Regions from separate parts of the Homo sapiens genome. Here region 1 is linked to region 2. Evidence: fine-mapped expression QTL. Tissue or cell type: cerebellar hemisphere. Region 2 holds a variant in brackets; the other region holds the start of a gene. All regions are shown on one strand. Distances are between the middles of the regions.

Region 1 (8,171 bases), 28 kb after region 2:
TGCACTGCCTTCTACACCTCCTCTTAATCTGCTCATTGGGTCTTCAATCTTGTGGTAGCTTGGCTATGAGCTTATCTTCTCAACTAGATTGGAGGCTCCCTGAGGGCAGGAAAAAGATTTTGTGCCTGTTTCCCTATGGTCTCTGGCTCAGTCCCAGGCCAGAGCCAGTATTTGCTGATTTGTGCATGGGTTCTGCACTCCCCTGGCCACTGTCAGAGTGAGTGGGTAGGCACCCCTGGGCATGTCCCAGACTCACTGAGGTGGCAGGCTGTGTCTGTGGGCCAGAGAAGGCAAGCAGGAGGTGGGGCTGAGACTGGCAGGAGGCTGACCTGGCTTACAGTGCGGGCAGCATGCTCCTGGCTCAGGGCAGGGTCCTCTTGGGCATGGCTTCTGGTTGCAAGTGATGGTACCTTCCTGTGGGAGCAGACTGAGGTGGCTGCACAGACATCAGATTCCTGGAGGGCAGGGCCTCTGGAAGTAAAACCTCAGCCCAGGCTGGGACATGTCATAGGGGCAAGAGGATGAGTTGGCTCTGTGGATGTGGGCTACCCTCTGTGTAAAGGCAGAAAAGAGACATCCCGCCCCCACTCCCATCGTCTCCTGATGCTCTTAACCCTAGGAAACCATCTCTTCCAGGTGCCAGCACATTCCCCAGAGAGGGGAGATCCTAGGAAGAAGACCGAAGACTTTCTCAGGGAGGAAGGAGGAAGGAAAGACTGGGGGAAGGTGGATGTGGCAACTGGTGAGGGAGAATAGGCAGGCCAGGGGGTTCCGAAGTAGAAGATGGGCAGTGGAAGAGTGGGAGGTGATATAGGAGGACAAGCAACTATTAAGTTGGTGCAAAAGTAATTGCGGTTTTTGCCATTAAAAGTCATGTCAAAAACCGCAATTACTTTTGCACCAACCTAATACATTCTCTGCCCTCCATGCCACTGTTGGCCAGGTCTGAATTGAGTGGCTTGGGGACCCCCCAGTGTCCGTGGGCATTGAGCTCCTTTTCCTACTCGGAATCAACTGAAAGCCACCGTGGCAAGGTGTGGGAGTGGCAGGCAGAGCCCATTATGCGACATCTTGAGTGCCACGCTGCAGTGACAGGTAGCTGGAGAGAGGCAGACAGGTGAGGGATATCCAGGTAGGTCCTGGGAGCTTACCAGACAGCGGCAGGTGGTGCAGGCATCTGGGGAGAAGGTCTCCCCGTTGCCGTAGGTCTGGCCATTTTGGCTGCAGCCTAAGGAGACAGCAGTGTCACTCAAGCACCCCATGCCATCTGCAGGTCTTTAGGTGGCCCCAGTGGGCGGATAGGGTGGCACTTACCCCTGCAATGGGGCAGGTGTGCTTGGGGGCCACAGTGAGCGGCCCCATCCTGGCAGACGCAGGCTGTGCAGGCGTCAGGCTCCCAGCGTGCCCCCTCGGGCCAGGCACGCCCCAGCCCCCAGCACTGGGGAGATGCAGGGTGGCACTCACAGGACTCCAGCTGCCTCACCCTCGTCTGCAGGTCCTTATTCTGGAGGAAGGAGATGGAATAGCAGGCACTGGCTCAGCTTCCCCCACCATCTCCAGTAGAGATGAGGGGTGTGAAAATGAGGCAGGATGAGAAAGAAGTTCGCCAATTCCAGAGCAGAGATGGGTCCCCCTCGGTCAGCATCCAGCTCAAACGATCACCATTCTCAGGGGGGCACGGGCCCCAATCTCTCCTTTGGACAAAATGGGGACCCAACCCTTGCCCCAAGAATTAAAGACATCTTTACCCATCCAAAATATTTTTGATGATGCCTTATATAGAATGCATTCCATAACATTCCCCAAATACATGGAACAGTACGAAACACGAACTGACAAAACAAATAGCCTGGAGGTTCTTCATTTGCATGAAAGAATCAATGTTAAGAATTGTTCTGGCCAGGCCTGGTGGCTCACACCTGTAATCCCAGCACTTGGAGAGGCTGAGGCGGGCAGATCACCTAAGGTCAGGAGTTCGAGACCAGCCTGGCCAACGTGGTGAAATCCTATCTCTACTAAAAATACAAAAATTAGCCGGGTATGGTGGTGCACACTTGTAGTCCCAACTACTCAGGAGGCTGAAGCGTAAGAATCACTTGAACCCAGGAGGCAGAGGTTGCAGGGAGCTGAGATTGTGCCACTGCACTCCAGCCTGGGTGACACATGGTGACTCCATCTCAAAAAAAAAAAAAAGAAAGAGAGAGAGAGAAAGAGAGAAGAAGGATGGAAGGAAGGAAGGAAGGAAAAGAAAGAAAAAAAAAGAAAGGAAGGAGGGAAGGAAAGAAGAAAGGAAGAAAGAAAGAAGAAAGAAAGAAAGAAAGAAAGAAAGAAAGAAAGAAAGAAAGAAAGAAAGAAAGGGAATTGTTCAGATAAGAGCTCTATTTTAGGCTCCCCCCTCCAAGCCTAACTCCTTCTCTCCCTCCCACTATGAGAAGCCCTCCTTACCCAATGCAAACCAGCACTGTCTCCATGGTACCTGTTCTCTGAGCTCCATCACTGCAGCCTCCAGTCGCCCCAGCCACTCTCGCAGGGGGTGCCACTGCTCCTGGGAGTTCCCAGCAAGGACTGAGGAATGGGCAGTTGTCTGCTGCCCAGGGGGCTCCCTGGGGACAGCCCCACCTGAAGGGCACAAGAATCCCATGTGGGCCTGAGGGTGAGGGGCTGGCCTGGCCACATTTTCTGGGTTCTGTCTTCTGACCCACAGGGGAAGGGGGTCATCCTGTGCACCCTGCCCTCTCCAATTGCCCACCCACCATCCAGGGCCGGGAAGCCAGCACAGGCTGAAACGCAGGGGAAGGCCACAGACATGCGCCAGGTGGAGCTGCTTTCAGGGGTCTGGGGTCTGGCTGAGAGTCTTTTCAGGGAGAACATGAGCAGCCCCCATCCCCTGACTCTCTGCACCTGTCAGAAAGGCCACAACTTTTGGAGAATGTGCTCAGGGAAGGACAACTGCTCCCGCCCCCAACCCTGAGCACGGTTTTCCAGGCTTGTGACAGGGGTTCCTGGGGGCTCCCACATTGGGTGGGGTGGGCTTCAAAAGTGGGACTTGGCTGCATTTTCTGAAGGGTGTGAGAAATGTGCTGGCAAGGCCCCTGCTAACTTTGAACACACCAGATCCAGTGAAGACAGCCTGTCCCTGCTTCTAGAAGACACTATGTCCAGGAAAGAGGGACGGGGCACCTCTGAGCTCTGGCCTGGGGTTAGGGGCGGCCACTTTCACCTTTTCACTTTGATCCTTCTCCTGCAGCCCAGAAAGTAAAGGCAGGAGGGGAAGAGGCAGACATAGGTCCCTCCTCCAGGCAGGGATGGGCAGGGAAGTTGAGGGTCTGGAGCGGAGGCAATAGGAACAGAGAGAGGAGGAGGGAGAGGGATGGGTCTTTCCCACCATGGCAGCTCATTAGTGAGGCCAGGCCTGGAGTGGCTTAAAAGGGTTTCTCACAGACACTAGGCCTGTGAGACAGGGGAACAATGTCACCCACTGTCACCATCAAAGGCAGAGGGGATTCTAGGCTAAAATTGAACTTGCTTTGTCCCAAGTTCCCTGGCTTGGTTAATGCCATCACACATACCCAGTTACTTAAGCCAGAAAGCTGGGGCTCAGCTCCCCTATTTTGTTGCCTGAGTTGTCCCCTAATACATCCCCCCCTTCTCCTCTCTCCACCATCTCCATTCAGAAGGCTGAAGACAAAGCGTCCCTGCCTCCATCTGTGCCCCTTCTCTCCACTCGACCTTTCTGAATCACACAGCCGAAGTCTCCCAGGAGCAAGTCCCGCTGGGATGGATCACAAGCACCGCCCACCTTTCCAGCCCCGCTACTTCTGGCTTATATCAGGGATTCTAACTCAGTTCCCGCACCCTGGGCGAATACTGGCCCTCAAACCCCAGGTGCCCTTTCCCATCTCCGTCCCTCTACTGGGGATCCTGTCACCCGGAATGGCACCCGGTCTCAGTCCTTCCCAAGCACACAGAGGGCGGCCACGATGGGCGTCTCAGCATCTGAAACCTTCTACCCAATCTAGACTCCCGTGGGGCCTCATCCTGCTGCCCAGGGCCCCTCCTCCCAGGCCACTCCTCCAGTTCTGCTTAAGTAGGCAGGCAGGATATGGGAGCCCGGGAGAAGCTGAATCCTCTGGGACCCCTAGGTGAAGCTAGGGCCAGCCTCGCCTGGAGAGACCTGCAGAAAGAGCTCCGAGTGGCACAAACTTGGCTGGTCCCCAAGGAATTGTCCCGGGTTCCCCTCTTAGCCTCCCCTGGCCCCGTGCCGGCACCGAGCCCTCCATTCCCGCCTGTCCTGCTCCGGGGAGGGCCAGACACAGATGCAAAGTCAGCTTCCACAGCGGGCCCCTTTTCTCCCCCTCCTTCGTCAAGACAAATAATTAACTTCAGACTCCCAGATGCCAGGGCAGCCGCACTCTCTCCCGCCGCCGGCTGCAGGAACCGCCCCCCTCTCCTGAACCCCCTGCTTTGGCCGTGGTCTTCCCCACCCTGCTCGCTCCCCCGACGGGGAGGACGGAGCTGGCCAGGGAGGCGCGCGAACCTCAGGCAGGGCTAAGAGCAGAGCCCCCAGCCCCTCTCGGCCCCCTCAGGCCGGGCTGATAGGAGGGAGGGGGCGCACCTGGCCGGACCCCAAGCCTCCCGCACCTGGACTCACCTTCCGCGCCCGCGGCCAGCGCCAGGGCCCCGAGGTGCAGGAGAAGGGACAGCGCAGCGGCCCCGACCCCGGCCATGCTAGCTCCGCCTCGCTCGGCTCGCCGTCTGTCGTCGCGGCTCAGCAGGCGCTGGGGAAGGCGGGGTGGGGACACACAGGCCGCTCCCACCCAGGCTTTGTTCAGGGAGGGCTCAAACCCCCCACCGCGCGCGCCTTTCCCATGCACACCTCCACCCGCCCCGGGCCCGGCCGGTCCTGACCCCAGAGAGCAGCTCCAGCTCGCAGGAAGCCCAACGGGGGTGTAGGCCTTGTCTCCGCTTAAGATCCAGGAGGAGACCCTGAAAAGAAAATAAACCCAAGTCCACCCCTCTCGGGATCCTAGAGAGTCTCCCTGCCCTTTTAGGTTACTCCATCGCCCTAGGGTTTCCAGATCGATTTTTCCTCTCTCTCACAAGTTTACAGAAGAAGCAGACTGAGCTGGGTTTAGATCCCTGCTCAGCCAATTCCATGTGGCCTTAGACCACTAACTTCTCTGTGCCTCAATTTCCCTATCTGTAAACTGGGGATCACCACATCTACTTTATAGACTTGCAGTGAGCATTAAGTGAGATTATATAAGTAAAGAATTTAGAGTCGGTAGAGAGATGGTAAATGCTCAGTAAATAACAAATAATAATAATAAGAACTCCTGATCTCTGAAATCATGGACACGACCAGTGTTTTCCTCTCTCCCCTATAAGTTTCTTTCCTGAACTCCACTCAACACCCCTACCCACCCCAGCAGTCCCAGGCTTGGCCCCAAATGCCAAGGCCGCCCTTCACTGGCTGGTCTCAGCCCCATTTCCCACTCCTGAGCTCAGGCCTGGCTGTGGGGTGAGCCTGGGTAGGGGGCAGGGCTGGGCCCTGGGCTCAGCAGGCAGAGGGGGCCAAAGGGAGGAAGTGAGGACAGCCGTCCCTGTGGGCCCACAGGCTGGGAAACTCCTCCTTGAAGCTGGGAAGCAGAGGGTTGGGTCTCACAGGCGAAGCTCACAGGCAAAAAGGAACATTGAGGGCGGAGCTGTGAACCCTTCCAAAGCTCTCCCTCCCTGTCATAAAGACCAGAAGTCGGAAGCCACCCCTCCCCCTAGACCAGGCAGGGACTGAGGTCTCCCCAGCCCACTCTCCACCAAGCTTAAAGCTTCAGTAAGGAGACGGCAGCTTCTCTGCCCCAGAGTCTGGGCCCATAGTGGACCTGAGCCTTTGCCACAGGGGGCAGGGAGGCTGCAATGCCACGCTAAGACCTGGCCTCAGTGCCTGGAGCTGAGGTCACAGAGGAAAGCCAGGGCCAGCCAGCCAGAAGAGGAACAAGGAAGCGGCAGCACTATTCCTGGCAGGTTTAAGGAAGGTGGCTTTCATTGACCGGGTGCCTCTGGAAAGCAAGTCCTCTGAGGGGCTGGGTAGTGGGACGGTTCAGAGCACAGATTCTGGCAGGGTTGCCAGGGCGCATCCTGGAGCTCTTGCTTTCTGCTCTGGGGCCTCTGGCTGGTCACTTCACTTTTGGTGGCTGATTTTTCTGAACTGTGACTGGAGCTCTAACAGCACCCACCTCATGGAGTGTTTGTAAGGATTAGTAATGCATGGTGCTTGGCACAGAGGTATGAGCAATTTTTACTTCCCTTATGAAGAATGGGGGCACCTCCATCCCCATTTTACAGAAAGAATCAGAGAGAATCAGGGTGAGCAGCTCTAAACCACACTGGGAGGATGCACAGGGCTTCCCTCGCCCCACAGTCCCCTTCCAGTCCCTTGTGTCTTAGCCTCTGCCACTGAGCCTGGCCCCAGTCGGCCCTCATATCACATTCCCAGGGAGGGACACTGTCCTGACACAGAAAAGGTCCTCCAACCCCTGGGGTGCGGTGGGGTGGGGAGGCTGGGCCTTCACTTCACCCCCAAGGCAGGTGTTTGTAGTGTCTGATTCTGTGTGTGTGTGTCTGGGTGTGGCACATTTGTGTGTGTGTGTGTGTGTATGTAATGTGTGTTTGGCTGGAGGTGGGGGCTGAGGCTGGGGAGGCACTTTTGGGACTCAAGGGACCTTGACTTTGAAGGGGCTTCCAGGGACACTTTCGTCACCCCACTTGACGATAAGGATGTAGTCCCTTTCTCCTTGACAGTGTAGGTGACATTGTACACCCGGTTCCCCATGTGCTTCACGTACACCTCCTCACAGGGGGTCTTGGGGCCGTGCACGCCCACCATCATCATGTTGGTGCCTGGAGAGGGAGGCAGAGGGACAGGCTCACACCAGGGAGTCCCCTACTGTGACCCACACCCTGCTCCCTGACGGCTTCTTGCTCACACCCCGGGAGACGCCCTCCCCCCGCCACCTGCCTGCTTTGCTGCAGTCCACGGTGAAGGAGTTCTTCTGGCCCACGAAGGCCTGGGACAGCCCAGGGCCCCGAGTCACCACCTTGCTGGCATCTGAGGAGAACTTGGGGATGGAGTTGTAGCTGGAGCCCCGGCTTGAGGAGGACTTGGTCACAGTCTCCACCAGAACCGTGGATGTTTCGTGAAGGCTGTGGCCTCCGGACAGCCTCGGACCTGAGGGGTGGGTGGAGGGGGCACAAACCTAGTCAGAAGGGCTTCCCGTTCTTCCCCAGGCAGGGGACCCTCGGCCAGCACTGCCACCCTGTGGGACTCACTGCCTGCATTTGAGGTTCCCCCCCAAATTCCTCCAAGGGCCACTCTAGGAGCACAGCCCCATTCCCAGCCAGGGCCCTGAGCTGCCAGCTCCAATTGGTGCTCCACCCTAGGGCTGGGGCCTCAGATGCTGCGTCCCTCATCCTTGCAGGCTTTGTCTGGGAACTCAGGCTAACTCACAGGGTAAGAGCCACTTTACAAAGGAACACCCACCCAACTCATCCTACAGACAGCCTCAAGAGGGGAAGCTTGCTCAATACCGACTGTGTCTTCTTGGAGCGGAGGAATATGGGAAGCCAGGAGGGAAGAAAGTGGTGCTAGAGCCTGAGGAGCCAGCGCAGGCCAGAGCTGAAGGAGTGAGGGGCCACGATGGAGAGGAAGAATGGCATTTTTACATGATCATGCCCGACTCCACAGAACGTGTACTGTGTAGAGCCAGGCCCACCTCTAGCCCTGGTAAACTGACCATGATGTCTGGGGGCAGACTATGGCCTAGATGTGCGTGGCCACCGGAGCCCTCCAGGCTGGGCTGGGCTGCAGGCTGGGTGGACCTCCCCCAAACCGGCACTCACCAGTGACCTTGGCCTTGAAGGGGCTGCCCACGATGTGCTGGGGGCCACCGTACTTGATGGCAATGAGGTAGTTGCCAGGGGCCATGGGAGTGTCAGTGACCACGTGGCCCTCAGGACACTCCCAACAGTCCAGCTGCACCTTGGTGGGGCCATCAATGGTGACAGACAAGGTCCCCGAGCAGGCGTTCAGGGCGTTCACATGATCTCTGATGACACACCTGGGGGCCAGAGGTAGCAAGGCTGAGGGCAGGAAGGGCTTGTGGCCCAAGATGGGC
Region 2 (8,171 bases):
CCAAAACCTCCCTAAAAGAACAGCAAATGAAGTACTGTCTACCTTCTTTTTGTCCCCATTTTACAGAAGGACAGACCAAGGCCAGAGTAGGTCAGCACTTGTCCAAGGTCACACAGCCAGTGAGTGGCAAAGCAAGGCTTGAGGGTTCAGGTAACAAGCCTTCTTTTTTTTTTTTTTTTTTGAGACAGAATTTTGCTCTTGTTGCTCAGGCTGGAGTGCAGTGGCACGATCTCAGCTCACCACAACTTCCACTTCCTGGGTTCAAGTGATTCTCCTGCCTCAGCCACCCGAGTAGCTGGGATTACAGGCATATGCACCACCAGGCTGGGCTAATTTTGTATTTTTAGTAGAGATGGGGTTTCTCCATGTTGGTCAGGCTGGTTTCAAACTCCCAACCTCAGGTGATCCACCCACCTCGGCATCCCAAAGTGCTGGGATTATAGGCATGAGCCACCCTGCCCGGCCAATGAGGCCTCTTTTGACAAGCCACCCTACCTCTCCAGCACCAAGACAGGCAAGAAGCCCCCACACCTCCCTGAAAGCCCAAAAGCCTATCTTGTGTGACTTCGCCCCCCTTCCCTGCTTTCCATGCCAGAGGGTTGCTCTGAGACTCATGCTCAGCTGCGTCTCCCCTAATCCCCATCCCCGGTTCCTGTACCACTCACCTGCCAGCTATTCCCAAACGCAGCCTCCGAGGGCAGGAGCAGCCCCTCAGGGCCCTGCAGATCGTCCTGGGCAAAGCCATTGAAGTTCCCACAGAGCCCACAAGTCCGGCCCTGGTAGGAGCCAGGTACGCTCACCTCCACCTGGGACTGCCCATCCCACAGCACCTGTGTGGAGAGGCCTGAGACTGGGGAGCAGGGAAGGACAGGGGCCTTAAGAAGCCCAGGGTCCATCATGGCCCCAGGCACTGTGTTCAGTGCGGCCAGTGCTGTAGGGGAGGAGAATGGACAGGTGGAGGCTCCCCTTGGAAGAAACACCACCCTGGCCAAGGCCAAGTGGATACATTCTGTGCCAGCCCTGGGCAAAGACAGATGACAGGAGGAGCTGCCCACAGCTCCTGCATGAGGGCACCTTCTCCTGCTGCCATCCCTGCACTGGGCCCCAGGTGAAATGCAACCCCCTTCCGGGGATTCACTTTCTCATGGGCATTCGGGCCTTGCAGAGGACAAAGCACAATTAGGGTCCGGATTAGAAGTGTACACCCTTATTCTACGAATTTACGAGTTGTGTTTCCTGCTGGGGGCAGGGGGCAAATTACTCTTCCACATGAGAGTTGGAAGGAACCTGAGACACCCCCCCAGGAGACTTCAGCTGACATCCTCCCCACTGCCACTGACCCTTCCCATTCCCCACTTTACAGACGAGAAATCTGTGGCCCAGAGGAGGCTGGTGGTGGCTTAAGAGGCTGAGCCGAGATTAGAAATCGGGCTCAGAACTCAGAACTCCTCTGACTGCCTGGGGAGATCTCTGACCCTGATCCACCTCCCCTCACACCCCTGTACCCCACTCCTTGCCTTTTTTGGCTAGGAGGTAGCTGGCATCCCCACCCCCTCTACAGATACAGAGGCCTAAACAGGACTGAAGCTCCCAGCAGGCAGCCCACCCAGACTCGCCCTGGAGCCGCACCTGGAGCCCGGGCTGGGCGTGCAGGATCACAGTGTGTCCTCGCAGCTCCACATACAGCAGCGGCTCCTGCAGGAAGGGCAAGGCCACCGGGTGCCCATCCACCTGGAGGATAAAGGAGGTGGGAGGAGGGGTGATGTCGAGGCACATGGGTGGACAGCACAGGATCCACCTTCCTCCACTCCTCGGCTTTGCTCACCGTGACTGCCCCGTCCTGCAGCAGCCGCACGGCCATGTCTCCCAGCAGCACCGCCACCTCCTGGGTCCAGGCCACACCGCTCCGGCCCCGGTCATCATTGGTCACGTGCACACTGTGGGCAGGAAAGTCCCAGGTGCCAATGGTCAGCAGGGCTGGGTGTAGGGGTTGGGGAGAAGAGAGACAGGGGATGCACACCTGAAGTCCCCGCTGTGGCAGTCCTTGGCCAGCACATAGCTGCAACTGCCCTGGAAGTGCAGCAGGCGGCCGTCGAAGGTGCGGTAATGGGGGTCTCCGAAGGCCATGCAGGAAGCGGGCCGAGGCAGGCAGCGGGGGCAGCAGCTGCCAGGACTCAGGGCAGGGGCCTTGTCCTGCACTCAGCCCCAGACACTGTCAGACACACCGCCCTCCCCGCCATGCCTCTCGCAGACCCTCCCAGAAAACCAAGCATCTCCCAGGAGTCTCCAGGGATCTCCAGGACTCTGGCTCCCAGGCTCCCTGTGAGTGAGGTCAGGGCACCACATCGTGGTCGCACTGGGAACAGCACTGTCCCCAGCTCCCAGCTGGCGGCAGGAGCCCAGCCTCCCTCTCTGATGCCTGGTCACACCAGGATGGCGGTACCATGTGCCCCCACCCTGACCCTCCCCACCATTTTAGATTGCGGCACTCACGGGGCCACACGAGAGCGGTGAGCAGCGCTGGCTCTGGCAACGCACGGTGCCCGCCATGCAGGAGCAGCTGGTGCAGGTGTCCACAGTCCAGCGCTCTCCAGAGGCCACCTCACGGCCCTGGTGCACGCAGGACTGGGTGGGAGCTGAAGGGATAGGAGCTGGGAGGGTCAGCTGCTCCTCCCACATGCCCAGAAGGTCTGGCTTACCCCTCCCCCATCACCCTGGCTGCGCACCTTGGCATCGCTCACAGCAGCTGTCAGCCTGGGGCACCTTCGCCCAGCCATGGGGGCAGGAGAGGGCCTGGCACTCCTCGAGGTGGCACTCCACATGGCCCCGCTGAGGACAGACATCATTGTTCTGGGGTTTTCTGCAGGGCCGGAGTCCCCAGCCTCATGCTTCTGGGGGCCTCTGGGCATGGACTTCTGCCTGCCCCTCCCACAATACATTCTTCACAGTTCAAGAGGGGAATGAAATCCAGCCTTCGGCTCCATGCCCCGGTGCAGGGATGCCCCTGACCCTTAAAGACCCCATATCTGCTGGTGGAGTGTTGGACACTCCTCCCTTTATCCATCTGCGAGATCCTCCACCCTCCCAGGCCCACCCCAGCTCACATGGCAGGTGCAGGCGATGCA[C/T]GCATTGCTGGGGTCCCGCCAGCTCTCTCCATCTGCCACTCTCCGGCCCTCGGCCTCCACCACACATTCTGAGGGGGGAGACATGGGATGGGCAGGCACTGTCCCTCCTGCTGTATCCTCCCTCCTTGGAGCTTACCCAGCATTTCACGGCAGGAAAGCACCCACTCCGTGTCCCTACCACCCTGATGGTGTTGATTTCTTCAGCCAATATCCACAGGGCCTATTAGACATCAGGCCTCACATCAGAGCTCAGGATGTCTCTAGGGTCCTAGGAGCCCAAAGGGCCAGAGGCTGGAACCCCACTCTGGGCCAGCTGCCCGCTCAGCAGTGCAATGCCCTCTTCATGGGCCTGGGGATCCTGAGCCCCCTGACAGGCATCAGGCCAGACCTTGAGAATCTAGGCTTCATCCCAGCTTCCCCCTGCCTCATGGGTCTCTTCTCCACCTCAAGAACAGCCCCCCTCCATTTCTAGAAAAGAATGAACCCTGCATTCTGTTCTAGAAACCGAGTACAAACCCTGGGCTGCCCGCTTGGCCCATGAATGCCTCCCCTTCCTGTGTTCCCCCTGGGCTCCTCTCTGAGGGTGGAGGCCAAGGCTGGGCACTTACCCCGGCATACGGGGCAGCAGCTCCCAGGGGGAGTGTGGCGCTCTGAGAGGGGACAGCTGAGCTCAGGACAAGCCTGGTGGATGCAGAGCCATGTCAGGTCCTGCCCATGTGAACACAAGAGGTAGAGAATGGCAGATCTCAGGGAGCTGGTGGAGGAGTAAGGCATAGGCAGGATGTGACAGTCAGGACAAGTGGGCAAATGTCAGGGCGAATGGAGAGCCCTGGAGCTGCTGCGGGAGAGGAGTGGCAGCCACAGCCCACAGAGAAGGAAGAAGAGGGGCTCTGTGAGTCCCCAAGGCAGGAGGGCTCACCTGGCACTGGCACGTGTAGCAGGGGTCTGGTGGGGCTAGCTCAGATCCCAGCAGGCCCTCTGAACAGTTACTCAAGGCCTCTGTGAAGACAAGAATCCAGAGTGCGGGACAGAAAGAGGGGCACAGGGCTGGAAATCCCAGCTGTCCCCATGCACTGTGTCCCCAGGTTTCTAACTCGAACTCCTGAGCATACCCATATCCCAGCACCTTGACTCCAGGGAGGATAAGTCCTCTTTCTCTTCAATTCAGTCAAGTTTACACGTTTTAAAAGAAACTTTGCTAGGCTATTATTTGGGGCCGGGTGGGGGTGCAAGGTGACTGGAAACAGACCAACCATGGCTTCCTTAGCCTGAGGTCACTAAAAATGGCCAGTCTGCGGCCTGCTCTCCCTCCCGCTATCTGTAATACAGTGTGGCTACAACTGCGCAGGGAAGCACACAGCCAGGCATCCCGGGTTCGAATCCTGATGCCAGCACTCAGTGCCTGTGCTTATTAGGTTGGATTAATCCACCTCTCTGAGCCTCAGTTTCTTAATCTGTAAAAAGAGATTAATAATACTTCCCTCACTGGGTAACTATGAAAATGAAGCGAGAGACTTTATTAAGAGCACCAAGTACAGTCTGTGGCATGGAACAGGTGCTTAATCAATGTTAGTCTTCTTCCCTTCCCCTGAAGCACCCCCTAGCAAGTGTTGATCAGAGCAGCCCTCCCTGATGGATGCCAGGGATGACTGCACAGCATTATGAACGTATTTAATACCACAAACTGTACACTTAAAAATGGTTAGGATTGTACATTTTAGTGTCTTACCACCATAAAAAACAAACAAACAAACAAACAAACAAAAAACAGAAAAGTCGGCGAGGTGGCTCACACCTGTAATCCAGCTCTTTCGGAGGCTGAGGCGGGTGGATCACCTGAGGTCAGGAGTTCGAGACCAGCCTGGCCAACATGTTAAAACCCCATCTCTACTAAAAATACAAAAATTAGCCAGGCTTGATGGCGCATGCCTATAATCCCAGCTACTCGGGAGGCTGAGGCAGGTGAATCCCTCGAATCCAGAGGTTGCAGTGAGCCGAGATTGTGCCACCGCACTCCAGCCTGTGCGACAAAGCGAGACTCCGTCTCAAAAAAACCAAAACCCAAATAAAAAAACCAAATTGGAGAAAATAGGATTATCATTAAAAAAAAAAGTATGTTTTTTCTTTCTTTTTTTTTTTTTGAGACAGAATCTCGCTCTGTTGCCAGGTTGCAGTGTAGTGGCACCATCTCAGCTCACTGCAACCTCTGCCTCCCGGGTTCAAGCTATCCTCCTGCCTCAGCCTCCCGAGTAGCTGGGACTACAGGCATGCCCCATCATGCCCAGCTAATTTTTGTATTTTTAGTAGAGACGGGGTTTCACCATGTTGGCCAGGATGGTCTCGATCTCTTGACCTTGTGATCCTCCCACCTTGGCCTCCCAAAGTGCTGGGATTACAGGCGTGAGCTACCAACCTCGGCCTGTTTTTTCTATGTAAGGATAACGTTCACCTGTATTGCAAAGGTAGGTTATCATTTCAGTGTTGGTATAGGACCAGAAACAGAAAAAAATTCCCTCCACAACAAATGTAAAATGGCTGTGTTAGGTAAACAACTATTAAATCCAGGAGACAGAAATTGGCCATCTTTCAATATTTGTAATAAAAATAAAACTGTTTCTTTACTTTTCCCCCCAATCTTAATAAATTTTTACTCTAACAACGACAACAAAAAAAGCTCGCCCACCCCTGTGGCTGGGCTACCCCCTGCCTGCCTGGGCCTCACGTCTCAGCACAACTGTCGCCCTGCAGCGCCACCTGCTGGCCAAGATGCTCCACAAACTGCACCCAGCTGCGGAGAGGCAAAGGGTTCCTGTCAGCTTCCCCAGTTCCCTTAGGGATGGTGCAGCCCTCGCCGGCCAGGCATAGGGTTCCAGAACAGTCCACTGGAGTCAGGAAGAATCTGGGGCTGGGACTGGTGAGGAAGGGCGGCAGGGGGTGGCAGCCCTAACCTCATATCTCATCTACCCCCACATCCCTGGACTCACCGGCACAGGTGGGACAGCAGTGCTGGGGCCCAGGGGGCAGGAGCTGGCTGGGGGGGCAGCCCACCAGGCTGGGACACTGCCGCCGGTGACAGCGAAGGCTGGGAGGCCCCTCAGGCTGTGGCTACAAGAATGAGTGAGCAGCGGTGGGTCCTGGGCCACAAAAACCCAGAGCTGCCCTTGGCCGGGACTTCCGGCCCCTCCCTCTGCCTGCTGCAGCCTCTTCCGGGACATGTCTTGGGCCCTGAACTCAAGGCTGAAGAGAGACTCAGTGTCTTCTAGACGTGCTCCTCACCCCATGCCCTAGTCTCTGAGATGATGTCTCCTTCTCCTTTAAGTCACTTGGGCCTGAGCCCTCATGTGACCTTTGATCCTCCGGCAGGCTCATGCCATCCTCCTCCCCAGGCCCATGGCTTAGTACCCTGACCTGTGATGTCATTTGCCTGCTCCAAGCCCTTCCATGGCCTTGCAAATAGAATCTCCACAATATGACCCCTAGCCACGTCCCAGGTGGCTCTCCGGCCATACACACCCGCCCTGCACTGCAGCCAGGGGGGCCACCTACGGCCTCCTGCACACTTGGAACCTGCGCTCCTTGTCTAAACCCAGACCTCCTGGCCCTGTTGGCCCCAACCCTGCCTTGTCTCCTGGCCACAGGGATACACTCCTTTGGCCCCCAGAGTGCCTGCTCCATGCAGTGACCAGCTTGGCTGGGCCTCATCCCATGCTGCCCACTCCCCCCCGACGAGGTGCCCCAGCCCCACCACTGTGCCCTCACCTACCTCGCAGATGCACACTTCACAGGGGTCTGCCCCAGGCTGGAAGCTCTCCCCAGGCTCGTACTTCCGGCCCTCATGCTCACAGTCTTTGGGGTGGAGTGAGAGCAGAACGGGACCAGGGGTCCTTCAGGCTGGCAGCGAGGCAGGGGTGGAGTCCTCTATCTCCAGCCTCCCCCTGATCCCAGGGAGTGGAGTGTGCACAAGGACGGAGGCCACTTCTCCAACTGCCTGTCTCTGCCACCCGGCCCAGCAGCGGCAGGGAGGTGTGGGCCCAGGGCTCCCTCCTCGCCTTTCCCCTCCCGCCCCAGGCTTCCAGTACCAGAGCATTGAGGACAGCAGTCATGGGGCCCTTGGCGGGGCTGGGCGCAAGAGCTGATGCACTGGATGCGTGCACAGGTGACGACGCCCTCGTGACACACACAGGAGGAGCAGGCACTGTCGGGGGGCACCCATCTACTGCCTTCGGGGTGCTCTTCCCCATGAGCCAGGCAGCCTGTGGTGCAAAGTGGGCAGGGACGAGCTCGGAGGTTGAGATCTGGACATCTGCTCCTGGCCCCCACCCTCAGTGGTCAGCTAGGCACGTGGCGCCAGGAGTGAGTTTGCAGGGATATGGCGGGAAGGTGCGATGGGGCAGAACTCCTGTCTGTTGTGGAGGGGAAAGGCACTGGGAGGGGTTCAGAACACCTGGGTTCTAATCCTGTTCTGTTCCTACCTGCTCTCAAGACCAAGCTCCAGGCAGCAGGCACTGCCCAGTGCAGCCCGCACCGGCCACAGACCTGGCATGCAGCAGCTGTGTCATAAATGCATGTGGACCAGGTGAATGGCTCCATCGCTAACCATGTGCCCAAGGTAACTCAGTCTCTCCGGGCCTCAGTCTCCTCATCTGTTAAATGGGGATTTCCTCTGTCCTGCCTCCCTCCCAGAGCAAGTGAAATGCTATGACAGTTCTGTGGTTCTGTAGAAACACCACCACACTGCGCAGGGTGTGGGACGAGGGGGCAGTGGGCAGGCTAAGAAAGGCTCAAGTTCAGAGCCAGATGGTCCAAGTGTCCATCTTGACTCTGCCACCTTCTCTACCTCTCTGTACCTCCACTTTCTCGTCTGTAAAATAGGAGGACTAAGAGTGCTTATCTGGTAAGTTGTTGTGCTGATTAAATGAGATAATACACGTAAAGTGCTCAGGGCCTGGCACATGCTACCTGCTCACTGAATGTCAGGTATCTTGATGATGATGATGATGGTGGTGATGATGATGATGATGATGAATGGGGTGTGGTTAGGAAGAG

Direction of the effects. Positions count from the first base shown, and alleles are read on the strand shown. Sizes are in standard deviations (SD) of each study's normalised expression.
As copies of T replace C in region 2, the expression in cerebellar hemisphere of the gene that starts at base 4,760 in region 1 goes down (small effect, 0.39 SD a copy in GTEx).

What was found. PIP is the estimated chance that this variant, and not a neighbour inherited with it, causes the effect.
Region 1: KCP starts here. The variant in region 2 is fine-mapped to the expression of KCP in cerebellar hemisphere (GTEx, PIP above 0.99). The same link has a PIP of 0.9 or more in cerebellum.

The regions. Positions count from the first base shown.
Region 1 is chr7:128,905,950-128,914,120 of GRCh38, forward strand. KCP (kielin cysteine rich BMP regulator) reads right to left here and starts at 4,760. Exons shown (of 40, transcript NM_001366122.1): 1 at 4,652-4,760; 2 at 2,477-2,619; 3 at 1,315-1,504; 4 at 1,152-1,228; 5 at 330-414. The coding sequence starts at 4,727. It also overlaps the pseudogene LOC392787.
Region 2 is chr7:128,877,893-128,886,063 of GRCh38, forward strand. It overlaps KCP (kielin cysteine rich BMP regulator), which reads right to left. Exons shown (of 40, transcript NM_001366122.1): 27 at 7,205-7,378; 28 at 6,889-6,971; 29 at 6,110-6,230; 30 at 4,045-4,124; 31 at 3,734-3,833; 32 at 3,105-3,193; 33 at 2,727-2,829; 34 at 2,494-2,636; 35 at 2,021-2,193; 36 at 1,826-1,937; 37 at 1,630-1,731; 38 at 666-830. Among named protein-coding and RNA genes, the nearest start is that of SPMIP1, 16 kb to the left of the region's middle. RefSeq lists a silencer at 5,743-6,037 and enhancers at 5,783-5,892, 6,343-6,602, 6,827-7,426. The variant C/T (reference allele first, on the strand shown) is at 3,126.